Linked DNA regions of Homo sapiens: region 2 is linked to region 1. The links come from fine-mapping of genetic effects on gene expression. Tissue or cell type: neutrophils. Region 1 holds a variant in brackets; the other region holds the start of a gene. All regions are shown on one strand. Distances are between the middles of the regions.

What was found. PIP is the estimated chance that this variant, and not a neighbour inherited with it, causes the effect.
Region 2: KIF1B starts here. The variant in region 1 is fine-mapped to the expression of KIF1B in neutrophils (CEDAR, PIP 0.95).

What each region holds. Positions count from the first base shown.
Region 1 is chr1:10,378,314-10,386,202 of GRCh38, forward strand. KIF1B (kinesin family member 1B) reads left to right here. Exons shown (of 49, transcript NM_001365951.3): 49 at 1-3,290. Among named protein-coding and RNA genes, the nearest start is that of PGD, 17 kb to the right of the region's middle. The variant T/C (reference allele first, on the strand shown) is at 4,496.
Region 2 is chr1:10,206,168-10,213,068 of GRCh38, forward strand. It overlaps KIF1B (kinesin family member 1B), which reads left to right and starts at 4,403. Exons shown (of 49, transcript NM_001365951.3): 1 at 4,403-4,711. RefSeq lists silencers at 3,624-3,918, 4,005-4,084, 4,115-4,634 and an enhancer at 5,536-6,191.

The sequences.
Region 1 (7,889 bases):
GGACAGTCTTCTTTCCTTCTGACAGACCAGGTCATCTGGCTTCCGAGATCATCAGAGAAGATAAGTCTGTCTCTTTCAGCTGCCAGTAAGTTTTCCAGGATGAGAGGGGAAAAAGAAAGCCTCCAGTGACTTCAGTTGCTTTGCCAGTTGTCTTGGGATTGTTTTACACCATCCTTTACTTCCCTTGCTCAGACCTCTCTGTTTCACCATTGCTCAGGCATTCAGGAAAGTATCTGCTCACTCCCACTTGGTGAGTCCTCGGCCTTGAGGTTGCTGACTCTCAGGCGTTAGGCAGCTGGATGACTTCCCGCTTCACGCAGCAAAGGCCAGGGGCTTGCGCGCCTCTGCAGAGTTGTTGCTAGGGAGACTTGTGTCATCATCCACAACCTTGTTTCTCACTTCCTGGTTGGGCTCATCTCTGAAGAACAGGTCTCCCAGCTTCGCTCCTTATCACTGCATTGTGAAGAGGAGGAAAAGTGAATCACGGAGAGAGAAAGGAAAGGATAGAATCACAGGCTGCGTCTGCACCTGAAAAGTGACCCGCGGAAACTCTATGGCGGATTTTTTTTTTAACTTTCTTCTTCCTGTTAAAACATAGGTCACTAACTGTGATGTTATTTGTTTTCTAAGTGGTATGTGAGATTTTCTAATGTAGTTAGAAGTTTCATTGTCTGATGGACACAATATGCCCTTCCGGTTCTATTCAAACCAGCAGGATCTGTCGGTGCTTAGAGATGGCTGCCTGGACTGGAATCAAATCTAATTTCAGGGAAATGAAGATGGAATTTGAAGGTCACTTTTAAAATTAAGTCATTGATGCTGCTGTTACAGAGTGTGACAGAGGATCCATGTCTGTGACACAGGACGGTGGGAAGCCTGAGAGAGAGTGAAATTATGTGATACACTGAAATGACTTTTGTTTTTCTTCTAACTCATACAAAACTGGTTTGGAAAGTCTTTGCTTTGGAAGCGTCAGACATTAGAACAGGCCAAACTGGACTGTCTGTTCATAGCGTGCCTGAATAAGAAGGCCTCTTAGGGAGCCAGAGGGAGCAGAGTGGTCGTGTCCTGCGTGCTCTTCACCCTCTGGGGCGCCCCTGCTGCGGCTGGCAGGTGCAGACAGCCTTTGCTGGTCCCCAGCACGTCCAGGGTGGGTGCTCCCTTGCCCGACAGAACCATCCCCACTGTGAGGCTGTGAGAGATTTGTGGCAGGAACTGTTTATGAGGCTCTAGTTGTTGCTGTTGTGGCGGGAAAGTTAAGAAACATAGCCCTTAAGGAAACCACCTTTATGTATTTTCTTAAAGCACGCCTTTAAATAAGCAAAAACTTTAAAAGGCAGGAAAGAGAATTCTTAGGCAAATTCAGAGAAATAAGTGCTAGTTAATACTAATCACCTCCTCCTCTGTCTCTCATCCTCCTTTCTCCCATCAAAGCAAAATATGGCCTCACCACCAGCCCCAAATCAGTGCTCAGACCCTCTCTGTGTCTGTGTGCCCTCCTGGGAGTCAGTCAGCGCTCAGGCCAGGACTGTGCAGGGCCAGCCAGCCCATGCGCTAGTCAGGAGCACAGGCAAGGGGTGCTTGTGGCAGTGGCCGGGCACCTGAGCCCCAGCTCGTTGTTAAACGTGCTGACGGCAAGGGGCAATGGAGTGAGTTTCCCAACTAAGAAACCACTATTATATATTTTTTCCCTTCAGTCACATAGACTTCAGACAACTCTCCTATTTTTTATGGATTTTTCAGCTCATTTCAGATGAAGGAACTAAGTCATTGTGAACTGTCTCTTGAGATCTAAAAACAAGATGACTTTTCCTGGCACATATTCCAAAGCAAAGACTTTGTTGCCTGCTGCTTATTGTCTAATTTACAGGGATATTTAATTTTGTCAGGTCTATGTATATTTATCCAGCTATACTTACTTGCACAGTGGATTGGAGAGAAAGGATTCTCCAGTGTGCACACTCATCGGTACTCTTTCTGCATTTCCCTCGTGCTGTGTCCCGCTCGGGTTCCAATGGACAGTATCAGGGCTTGTTTGACTTAGGTCTTTCAGTTTTCCTTTCGGTTCCCTTTTAAAAATGTGATTGTTAACCTGCCTCTTGAAAGATTCAACCGGGTGTGGTGGCTCACGCCTGTAATCCCAGCACATTGGGAGGCCAAGGCAGGTGGATCACCTGAGGTCAGAAGTTTGAGACCAGCCTGGCCAACATGGTGAAACCCCGTCTCTACTAAAAATACAAAAAGTAGCCAGGCGTGGTGGCGTGTGCCTGTAGTCCCAGCTACTTGGGAGGCTGAGGCAGGAGAATAGCTTGAACCTGGGAGGTGGAGGCTGCAGTGAGTTGAGACTGCACCATTGCACTCCAGCCTGGGTGACAAAGCAGGACTCCGTCTCAAAAAAAAAGAAAAGATTCATGATGCTGCTGCTCCCAGAAGGTTTGCTGGATGTGTTTACATAGGACTCTAACTTGTGTGCACTACAGTTGTTCACCAGGGCCAGTGATTCACCCCAGTGTGTGGCCAGACCATGACTGTGTAGCAGGAATGTTTTAATTTGTGCTTCCTTAGTAAATTGAAATATCAGCTGAGAGATTATTTGCTGCTGTTATTCAAAAGGCCATTTATGAAGTTAGTATTTGAGCCCCATAAGATCTTTAAAAAGCCTCCAATCATTTAAAGGAAGAAATCAGAGTTGCTATAAAATTCAGTAAAAAGCTCATAGCCAAACGGCTGTGCTCAGATGGAAAGTCTGAGCTGAGGTTGGTCTCTTGCCAAACCGTGGCTGTTGTGTGTTGTTCTTCATGTCTTCGAGTTCATTTTTTTTCATTCTGCCTATTCTGGCATCAGCTCACTTGAGGAGTCCCTCAGCCTTCTTGTATTTAAGGCATCGTCTTAGACTTTGTGGCTCTAAAGTACCTGTCTGTTGAGATTTCAAGTCTCTTGTCACCATCCTCACACATGACAACAAAACCCATAATGCATAAGTGGCCTTTTTGAACCAAGACTTTGCAAACTGATCTCTCCCCCGTGAAGGAGTTGAGCACATTAGCAACAATGTACATTAATTTTGGATTTTCATTTTCATGTTTTATTTTGTAAATATTATCTGATGTTTGGAGCTTGAGTATACAGACTGTAAATATAGTTCTTGTATTTGTACTAATTCTGATTCTTTTGCTGTATAGCCTTAGATGTGCAATGCAGACACTATCTAACTGTGTGTGGTAACCTTGCGTCACGGAGCTGTTAGTGAACGAGGTAAAAATAATAAAGGTACAGCCAGTGCATCAGAAGGTTCTCGATGTGCATTTATTCTTGCACCCCTTGAAAGGTAATTGCACAAAGATTTCTTTTCTTGATTTGCAAAGATAATACCTTTCTAAGACAGAAGTCACGATATCATCGCTTAAGTATTCCTTTCTGATATTCAAAATCGTGGTTTTTATATAACCAAGAAAGCTAATATGGTGCTGTTTCTTTGAAAGTACTTTTCTCCCAAAGATGTAAGTGGTTATTTTAGCTAGAAGATTTGTTGTTTTTCTCCTGAAGCCTCCTTGTATGCCTTCCAATAATTCTGTAGTGTTGTGTTGGCTTCTTTTTTTTTTTTTTTTTCTTTTTGAGACAGAGTCTTGCTCTGTCACCCATGCTGGAGTGCAGTGATGTGATCTCGGGTCACTGCAACCTCTGCCTCCTGGGTTCAAGCGATTCTCCTGCCTCAGACTCCTGAGTAGCTGGGATTACAGGCGTGCGCCACCATGCGTGGCTAATTTTTGTATTATTATTATTATTATTATTATTATTATTTTATTTATTTATTTATTTATTTTGAGATGGAGTCTCACTCTGTCGTCCAGGCTGGAGTACAGTGGCATGATCTCGGCTCACTGCAACTTTCCACCTCCCGGGTTCAAGCGATTCTCCCTGCCTCAGCCTCCCAAGTAGCTGGGATTACAGGCATCCATCACGCCTGGCTGATTTTATTTTTAGTAGAGAGGGGTTTCACTGTGTTGGCCAGGCTGGTCTCAAGCTCCTGACCTTGTGATCCACCCGCCTCAGCCTCCCAAAGTGCTAGGATTACAGGCTTGAGCCACCGTGCCCAACCTATAATTATTTTTTTGAGATGGAGTTTGACTCTTGTCACCCATGCTGGTGTGCAATGGCACCATCTCAGCTCACTGCAACCTCTGCCTCCCCAGTTCAAACAATTCTCTTTCCTCAGCCTCCCAGGTAGTTGCAATTACAGGTGCCCGCCACCACACCTGGCTAATTTTTAAAAATATTTTTAGTAGAGACGGGGTTTCAGCACATTGGCCAGACTGGTCTCAAACTCCTGACCTCAGGTGATCCGCCCACCTCGGCCTCCCAAAGTGCTGGGATTACAGGCGTGAGCCACCGTGCCTGGCCATGTTGGGTTTTTTTGGGTGGGGAAGGGTAAATGGGGATTTGAAAAGTTGAACATGTCAATTTAATTTAACAAGCCCTCATCACGAGCAGAGCA[T/C]GAGCAGGGGCCACTGTCCTGGGTGTTTGGGGAGAAACAGAAGAAGGGAGGGAGGAGCAGCCCTCAGGTTAAAAGCAATGATTTGTTCCAACCAATATTTGAGTACCCACCCTGTGCCTGGTGTGCTGCTGGGTGCAGTAATTCAGCAGCCAACAAAGCAAGCCCATGCACTTGTGCCCTCCCATTCCAGTGGGGAAGACAATGTTTAAACAAATTTACAACATCGGTCCTAAGTATTTTGGAGGAAAGCAGCTAAATAAAAGGATGAAAGAGGGATGGGAACGAGGGATGTTTAGATGGCATAGTCAGGGAAGGCCTCTCTTCGGAGATCACATTTGAGCAGACTCTAGAATGAAAGGATAGGGTAAGCCATGCAAACCCCTGGGCAAAGAGGTCTCCAAGTAGAGAAATGAAGCCCTTGAGGCAGCAGTGTCCTCAGTAGGTTCCAGAAATAGCAAGGTCGCTGGTACAGAGTCAGGGACTGGGAGCGCAATAGAAGACATCAGAAAGTAGCCAGGGACCAGGATATTTAGGGCTTAGGTGAGGACTTGGAATTTCATTAGAGTGAATGGGAAGCCATTGAAGGCTTTGGAGCAGAGGAGTCACAGGGGCTTATTTACATTTTTAAAAGACCATTCTGGAAAACAGTCTTTGTACTCAGGCAGGGACAAGTGGAAAAAAGGGGCAAAATAAGATTGTTACCCCAGTATTCCAGGGGAGGAGACGGTGGCTCAGACTAAGGTAGTAGAGTATAGGTGGGACGAAATGGGCAGATTCAAGGTACATTTTGAAGTTAGAACAGTTTTCTGAGAGACTTCATGCAGAGTTGTTGGAGAGAAAGGAGAAAAGTAACTAAAAGGGTAAGTGCCTGAGTAAAAGAACAGCATTGCAGTTTTCTAAGGTGAAGACAATTGGTAGAACAAAAGCTGAGAATGGTCATGCCTGTAATCCCAGCACTTTGGGAAGCCAAGGTGGGAGGATCACTGGAGCCCAAGACTTCGAGACCGACCAGCCTGGGCAATGTAGTGAGACCCCATCTCTACAAACAATTAAAAATTAGCTGGGCATGATGGTGCACGCCAGTAGTGCCAGATACCCAGGAGACTAAGGCAGAAGGATCGCTTGAGCCCAGGAGTTGGAAGCTGCAGTGAGCTGTGATCTTGCCACTGCACTCCAGCCTGGTCAACAGAGTTGAGACCCTGACTGTTAAGAAAATAGCACTTTGGGAGGCCGAGGCGGGCAGATCACCTGAGGTCAGGAGTTTGAGGCCAGCCTGGCCAACATGGTGAAACCCCGTCTCTACTAAAAATACAAAAATTAGCGGGGCGTGGTGGCAGGCGCCTGTAATCCCAGCTATTTGGGAGGCTGAGACAGGAGAACCGCTTGGACCCAGGAGGCAGAGGTTGCAGTGATCTGAGATCACGCCACTGCACTCCAGCCTGAGCAACAGAGAGCGAAACTGTCTCAAAATAATAATAATAATTTGATTTGAGTCATGTTCACTTTCAGATGCCAACACATGCACCTAAGTGTATAGTCAACAAAACAGTTGGCTGGACTAGCGGGATTCAAGGGGAGTGGTTGGAGCTGGAGACACACATTTGGGAGTTGGCGGCATGAAGATAGCAGATCGAGCCTCAGGCAGGGAAGGAGACCTGGAGCGTGTGTGTGGCTGACAGGAACCAAGGACTGATCTTGGAGCTTGGTGCGCTCCAACACATGGAGGTCAGGAAGAGAGAGGAGTCCAGCCAGGAGGACAAGCAGTGGCCGTGGAGGGAGAGTGTGGAAGACTGAGGAAGTGGTTGCTTTGTCCAGGGCAGCCAATAGGTTACAGGAAGGACTGAGCAGGGACCACAGGTTTTGTTAACTGAAAGGTGTAAGAAGTCCGAGGGAGCCAGGGGATACCCTAATTTTTCCCAATTTCAGAACCAATTAAGAAACAAAAAATAAGACGATGGGAGATGGGAGACCAAAATACCACCCTTATTACTGATAAAACTGCTGTTAGAAAATGTGGTTACATCTGGGAACACTGGATTTCTTTTCTTTTCTTTTTTTTTTGTGATGGCATCTCGCTCTGTCGCCCAGGCTGGAGTGCAGTGGTGTCATCTTGGCTCACTGCAAGCTCCGCCTCCCAGATTCACACCATTCTCCTGCCTCAGCCTCCCCAGTAGCTGGGACTACAGGCACCCGCCACCGCGCCCGGCTAATTTTTTTTTTTGTATTTTTAGTAGAGACGGGGCTTCACCATGTTAGCCAGGATGGTCTCGATCTCCTGACCTCATGGTCTGCCCGCCTCAGCCTCCCAAAGTGCTGGAATTACAGGCGTGAGCCACCGCGCCCGGCCTGGATTTATTTTGTAAGGCTGAACCTCAGAATGAGGCGGTTTAGAGCAGTGCTTCTTGAACTTTATTGTGCACCAGAATCCCCTGGGGATCGTACTAAAATGCAGGTTCTGATTGAGTAGGGCTTGGGTGGAGCCTGAGATTCTGCTTTTCTAATAAGCTTCCAAGTGATGTCAGTATTGCCATTGTGGGGATCACTCTTTGAGTAGCAGAAGTTAAGAGGAACGCAGCGCATATGTCCCCTGAAGGCAGCCGAGGTTCTGAGAGAGAGGGAGGAAGTGGCCAGGCAGTCTATGCCTAACCGCTCCTTCCAGACTCACAGGAACATTCTAGTAATGGGGCTCACTTCTCATGGAGGGAGGCATCAGGAGTGCTTCTACACTAGCAAGGTCATTGGTGAGGGGAGCATTTGTTTGAGTGGTGCCTAATTGGAGTAGGTTCTAGGGAAAGTGGGAGGAGAGGAGGGTGAAACAGTACAAACAATTCTTTCATAGATTTTTCTGTAAAAGGGAAAAGACAAATGGAGTAACTGGAAGGGGATATGGGGTAAAGGAGAGGCTTTTGTTTTAAAGAAGGGAAATAGCATAGCTTGTGCATGTACTAATTGGAAAAAATGAACTGGGAGGGAAAACCTGGCAGTGGGGAAGACAGTGAGGTGGAGAGAGTTGTGGAGTGGGCCTGAGGGACTGGGGGCCAGTGCACAGCAGAGAGGTAGGTCCTAGATCCAACTGAGCACCCTGGCTTATATCCACAGTGCTGCCGACAGCTCAGTGATAGGAACACTGCAAGTCTCTGGATTGCTAGGACTCTTCAGTCTTAAGTTAATGTCTGGCTGGGCGTGGTGGCTCATGCCTGTAATCCCAGCACTTTGGGAGGCTAAGGCGGGTGGATCACCTGAGCTCAGGAGTTCAAAACCAGCCTGGCCAACATGGTGAAACCCTGTCTCTACTAAAAATACAAAAATTAGCTGGGCATGGTGGTGGGTACCTGTAATCCCAGCTACTCGGGAGGCTGAGGCTGGAGAATCACTTGAACCCGGGAGGCAGAGG
Region 2 (6,901 bases), 170 kb before region 1:
AATGACAGGGCCAGGCGTGGTGGTTCACGCCTGTAATCCCAGCACTTTGGGAGGCCGAAGCGGGCAGATCACCTCAGGTCAGGAGTTCGAGACCAGCCTGGCCAACACAGTGAAACCCCGTGTCTACTAAAAACACAAAAATTAGCTGGGCATGGCGGTGGGCACCTGTAATCCCAGATACTTGGGAGGCTGAGACAGGAGAATCGCTCCGCTTGAACCTGGGGGGCAGAGGTTGCAGTGAGCCGAGATCGAGTCACTGCACTCCAGCCTGGGTGAGAAGGGGAGACTCTGTCTCTAAATCAATTAATCGGTCAATCAATCAATCAATAATAGACATTTCCAGAGAAGAAAATGGAAGGCGGAAAATCATCAACGGCAGAAATAGCACCTCCGAACTCCAGCCTGGGCGACAGAACGAGACTCCATCTCAAAAAACAAACAAAAAATAATAATAACAATAAGGAGTTCAAGACAAATCAATAAATTCTCTGGTTTTTCCTCCCAACTCAACATTTCCATCTTCCTGTTATTTTGTTTTTCAAGAAATAAAATATTACACATAAAGTTGCAGATCCTCATGTCATCCTCCCTTTTTTTGTTTGTTTGTTTTGTTTTTCTCTCTTTCTTTCCTGGGTTAATCTCATCCTGAATTTGATGATTGTCATTGCCATCCATGTTTTCACACTTGACTATACATAAATTTAGTCCTAAACAGTATAGTGCTCATATTCATACTTCAGACTTTATGTATAAATGCCACTGTCCCGCACCTATTATCCTGCACCTTTTTTTTTTTTTTTTTGAGACAGAGTCTCGCTCTGTCACCCAGGCTGGACTGCAGTGGTGAGATCTCGGCTCACTGCAAGCTCCACCTCCTGGGTTCACGCCATTCTCCTGCCTCAGCCTCCCGAGTAGCTGGGATTACAGGCATGTACCACCACATCTGGCTAATTTTTTGTATTTTTAGTAGAGACTGTGTTTCACCATGTTGGCTAGGCTGGTCTCGAACTCCTTACCTCAAGTGATTCACCCACCTGGGCCTCCCAAAGTGCTGGGATTACAGGTGCATTTATTCTTAAATATTGAATAGCTTTTATTGCTTTTTTTCTTTCTTTCTTTTTTTTTTTGAGACAGGATCTCACTCTGTCATTGAGGCTCGAGTGCTGTGGTGCAATCATAGCTCACTGTAGCCTTGACCTTCCAGGCTCAATTGATCTTCCCACTCAGCCTCCCAAGCAGCTGGGACTACAGGTACATACCACCATGTCTGGCTACTTTTTTTTTTTTTTTTGTATTTTTTGTAGAGATAGGGTCTCGTTATGTTGCCTAGGCTTGTCTCAAACTCCTAGGCTCAAGCGATCAGCCTACTCTGCCTCCCAAAGTACTGGGATTACAGGCGTGGGCCACAGCACCTGGCCGGGAAGACTTGATTTTTTAAAAAGATCCCATTAAAAATAGCAATAAAGGCCAGGCTCAGTGGCTCACACCTGTAGTCCCAGCACTTTGGGAGGCTGAGGTTGATGGATCACTGGAGTCCAGGAGCTGGATACCAGCCGTCTCTACAAAAAATAGAAAAATTAGCTGGGCGTGGTGGTGTGTGCCTATAGTGCCACCTACTCAGGAGGCTGAGGTGGGAGGATGGATTAAACCAGGGGGCAAGGGTTGAGGCTGTAGTAAGCTGTGATCACACCACTGCACTCCAGCCTGGGTGACAGAGTGAGACCCTGTCTAAAATAATAGTAATAATAAAGTCTTCCTATCAAAAAGGAACACTTCGGATTTTTGTGTATTGATTTTGTATCCAGAAACCTGATTGTGATTGTGATTGTGATGGGAGAGTGGCAGTGCACCACGTGACTAGGACTTCTGATGTTCTCGTATCCTTGCATTCCAGAGACAGCCCTACCAGATCATGGCTACATTCAATTTTCTAGTAATTTATTTATCATTTTAAAGAGATGCTTTTATACAGAATTTGTAATCTGAGAAACTGGCTGGGCAGTGTGACTTCATCTGTCAGAGAGGCAAAAGGCTTATGCAGAGTGGGCTGTTTGGCCTTGGATCCTGGAGCAGCCTTCTTTGCCTTTATTGACCCTTCTGTGCCTTCTGTGTGCCCTTTGGCTAGCTTCTTCTCCTGCCAATCACAATCACACCCTCTTCACTACGTTTTTGTTTTAAATTTTATTTTATTTTTTGTTGAGACAGAGTCTCACTCTATCTCCCAGGCTGGAGTTCAGTGGTAGGATCTCAGCTCACTGCAACTGCCGCCTCGTCCACCTCCCGGGTTCAAGTGATTCTCCTGCCTCAGGTTCCCAAGTAGCTGGTATTACAGGCGTGCCCACCACGCCTGGCTAATTTTTGTATTTTTTAGTAGAGATGGGGTTTTGCCATGTTGGTCAGGCTGGTCTCGAACTCCTGACCTCAAGTGATCCACCCGCCTCAGCCTCCCAAAGTGTTGGGATTACTGTCGTGAGCCACCGCGCCTGGTTCTTCACTACGTTTTAGATTCTTTTTAGATTGTGCTCCATTGAGAGCTCAAGCAATACAGCCACCCAGGTTTTCGTAACTCTCCATGGCGCTCACCACAGTATTTACGCAAGGAGGTCCACGCTATGATGAAGTGGTGTCTACTGTTGAATTGATGAGTTCCTCTTTATTAACCTACTATAGTTTCATTTTACTCTTAGCCGTCAGGAAGCTAAGAGCTGAGTTCTGTGCTCAGTGGCAACATATTTCCTTGACTATGGATTTTTAAAATATTGTTTTTCTGGCCGGGCGCGGTGGCTCATTCCTGTAATCCCAGCACTTTGAGAGGCTGAGACAGGTGGATCACCTGAGGTCAGGAGTTCAAGACCAACCTGACCAACATAGTGAAACACCGTCTCTACTAAAAATACAAAAATTAGCCGGGCGTGGTGGCAGGCACCTGTAATCCCAGCTACTCGGGAGGCTGAGGCAGGAGAATCGCTTGAACCTGGGAGGCGGAGGTTGCAGAGATTTGACATCGTGCCACTGAGCTCAGCCTGGGCGAGAGTAAAACTCTGTCTCAAAACAAAACAAAAAAATTTTTCTTTCTAGGCATGCCTCTCATTCAAACAGCTTTTAAAAAGTCTCTTGCTTGTTTCATTATTATGAATTTTACGCCTATTTTAAAGCTATACGGTTTCACTGCTGTATGCTTTAGTGTAAGCTATGTCAAATCCTTTTGCAGGTAGGTGGAGCTTAAATTCTATAAAATGAGACGTGATCAATAAAAGCGGATGAAGAGTCTGAGGACTTGAGTGGTGGTGGAGATTTTCCAGAATTATTAGTGTAGAAAATTAATTTCGATGTTTTAGTGCATATGCTTGTACATAATACCTTTTACTCACAATAATACTGTATTTAATTCAGGGGAAGACATGTGATTTTACTTTCAATGTCTGCTAGTAAATAAAAATAATTCACAACCTTATAAAGTAATAGTGCTCGGCCTGGGCCTGATAATTGAATATATTATCACTGAAGATTATATTTTGTTAAGTACTGAATTGAACAGTTTCTGAACAGTGAGATTTTTCTTTCCAGCTGAATCTAAATCTGATTTTAAAGAAATCACTGCTCGTGCTTTTGTGTCCTCCGGGTTTCTAACTTCCACTCTCCCTCCTTCAAGGGCATCTCCCAGAAGGGGGCTGGGCTCGTTAACTCAGGGACGGTGCAAAGCGTTTGTTCCTCTCCTCACAGCCCTTCCGCGGTCTCCCAAGGAGACAAGTGGAATGCCCACCAAGTCATGCTTTTCCATTACTCATTCCGCCTTCTCTCCCGAGGTGGCGCGTGGGAGGTGTTTTGCTCGGGTTCTGTAAGAATAGGCCAGGCAGCTTCCCGCGGGATGCGCTCATCCCCTCTCGGGGTTCCGCTCCCACCGCGCCGCGTTCGGCCGGTTCCGCCTGCGAGATGTTTTCCGACGGACAATGATTCCACTCTCGGCGCCTCCCATGTTGATCCCAGCTCCTCTGCGGGCGTCAGGACCCCTGGGCCCCGCCCCGCTCCACTCAGTCAATCTTTTGTCCCCGTATAAGGCGGATTATCGGGGTGGCTGGGGGCGGCTGATTCCGACGAATGCCCTTGGGGGTCACCCGGGAGGGAACTCCGGGCTCCGGCTTTGGCCAGCCCGCACCCCTGGTTGAGCCGGCCCGAGGGCCACCAGGGGGCGCTCGATGTTCCTGCAGCCCCCCGCAGCAGCCCCACTCCCCGGCTCACCCTACGATTGGCTGGCCGCCCCGAGCTCTGTGCTGTGATTGGTCACAGCCCGTGTCCGTCGCGGGCGCCGGGGCGGATACGAGGTGACGCGCAGAGGCCCAGCTCGGGGCGGTGTCCCGCGCCGGCGACTGCGGGCGGAGTTTCGCGAGGGCCGAAGCGGGGCAGTGTGACGGCAGCGGTCCTGGGAGGCGCCCGCGCGCGTCGGAGCAGCTCCCCGTCCTCCGCAGCCGTCACCGCCGGCCGTCGCCGCGCCCTGGCCTCCCGCACTCGCGCACTCCTGTCCGCCGCCCACCGCCCACCTCCCACCTCGATGCGGTGCCGGGCTGCTGCGTGATGGGGCTGCGGAGCGGCGCCCTGCGGCTCGCGGCGGCCGCTGCTCGCGCTGAGGTGCGTCGGTGCCCGGCCCCCCGCGCCCCCGCGCGCCGCGGCTCCTGTTGACCCGGTCCGCCCGTCGGTCTGCAGCGCGGCTGAGGTAAGGCGGCGGGGCTGGCCGCGGTTGGCGCCGCGGTCGCGGGGTTGGGGAGGGGGCCGCTTCCGCGGGGAGGAGCGGCCGGGCCGGGGTCCGGGCGGGGTCTGAGGGGAGGTAGCGCGGGACGGGCGCCGGGTGCGGGAGCCTCGCCCTCGGGGGAGGGGACCCCTCCCTAGGCCAGCAGCGAGTCCCGGGCCGGCGTCCAGCGGTCGGCTGGGGCCCCCGCAGTGCCCTGCACCGGCCCTCCGTTTCCCCCGCGCTGCCAGGCCCCGGCTGTGCCCAGCGCTCTCCAGACCCGCCGCTGCCTGGCCGTTCCCTGGGCTCCGCGCACGTTGCAGCCCGGGGGGCGGCTGTGCTTCGTTTGAAGCCATCGTTTCTCATTTTCCCTCTCCCCTTTCCTCCTTTGTGGTGGGCATCGGGCTTCGGCTGGGAATGTGGTTATGCCCTTTGCCAGATGGCGATAGGAAAGGTCATCGCTTGGCGCTGGGGGAGCCGAGGGCTCGAGGCCTGGAAAGAGGGGTGCGATAGGAAGGGAGGGGGCTTGTTGGATGCTGGCCAGGTGTGAGGAAGGCTGGTGTGGTCTCGGCATTCAGCCGACTGGGATTACTCGGGCAGCCATATTGGGAGGATGATCTGACAAATCCTTTAGGAGCCAAGTCCAGTTGTTGGAAGGCACCGAGTGACAGCCCTGGCAGCTTTCAGGGTGACTGGCCAGACCAGAAGCCAAGTTGTGGGGGTTGGGAGGCTGCTTGAGCAAGCTAGTCATTGTTCATGCAACACAAAACATTCCCGCCCCTAACGCCAGAATGGAGCTTCCAGATCCCTTTTTTTTTTTTTCCTTGATTGCTAAATGAGCTTCCAAGGTAAACTGCCTTCAAGATTCCATTCTTGTTGGGGTGAAATTCCGTGTTTCTCTATTCATCTTCTGCGTCCAGTGCGGGGGCTGTGAAAGGCCTGCTGATGCTTTACATGTGCATAGGCCGATCTGAGAATTGCTAAGGCCACTGTATCAGTATGGAGGCCTCGAGTAGCCGTAGAGCATTGGATGGATAGATTTTCAGAGTCGCTCGACTTGCAGAGAAGAAGTAAACCAGAGTATTCTGATAGTGGGCGAGGCTAGTGGCGGCATTTCTGAGGACGCAGGCTGTCATCTTTGTGGAATCTCGAGGTAGCTGAAATTAGATTGTCAACAGATCCCTTGCTCATATCTCTTACTGCTCTGAGCAGCTGTTCTGCCACCATTGAACATTCCGCTTTGTGTCATGATGTGCCTGTCTGAGCCTGATGAAAGTGTGCTGATGAGATTTGAATAACTCTTAAGAGGTGATATCATGGTGGATATTTTATTTAAAGGCTGGCATTTTGTCTCCTTAGTTTAGTCATAACAAAATCTAGTTCTTGTGTTCCTCTAAGAAGTGAGGTGGTGCTTTCTGATTAAGTTGATATGGTTGCTGGATTATAGAGCAAGTGTTGTTAATGTATTGTTTGAAGGTGGAATATGAGAATTACACATAGGTTGGTATTGTAAAGCAGGTCTGGAGATGATCAATAACTGGGTTCAGCATGAGTCTGTAGATCTGTTCTTTTCTATATCCTAGATGTGGACAGGACCTGGAGAGATGGCATGCCTGCTTTCTTCTTTGTGGCCTTTGCTTTCATTCAAGTTCAATTTGTTCATAAATACATTCTCATAACTTCTCAGGTTGAACTATGTAAAAAATTTTGGGATGGGTGTGGTGGCTCATGCCTTGTAATCCCAACACTTTGGGAGGCTGAGACAGGAGGATCCCTTGAGCTCAGGAGTTCGAGACCACCCTGGGCAACAGAGTGGGACTCTGTCTCTACAAAAATAAATGAATAAATAAATACCTGGGCATGGTGGCTCATGCCTGTATTCCCAGCTATTTGGGAGACTGAGGTGGGAGGATTGCTTGAGGCTAGCCTGGGCAACAGCAAGACCCTGGCTAAAAAAAAAAATGTGTATATATATATGTGTGTGTGTGCATGCGTGTGTGTATATATATATATATATATATATATATATATATATATATATACACACACACATTTAAAAAATTTGGATAGCTTTTGCTAAGCAAGGTCTTAACACTATTTTTTTGTTATTTTTGTCATCAAGCTTTAGTTTTAAAACTTGTTGAATCAAATGTAACTTCAACAGAAACTAGTGTTTTT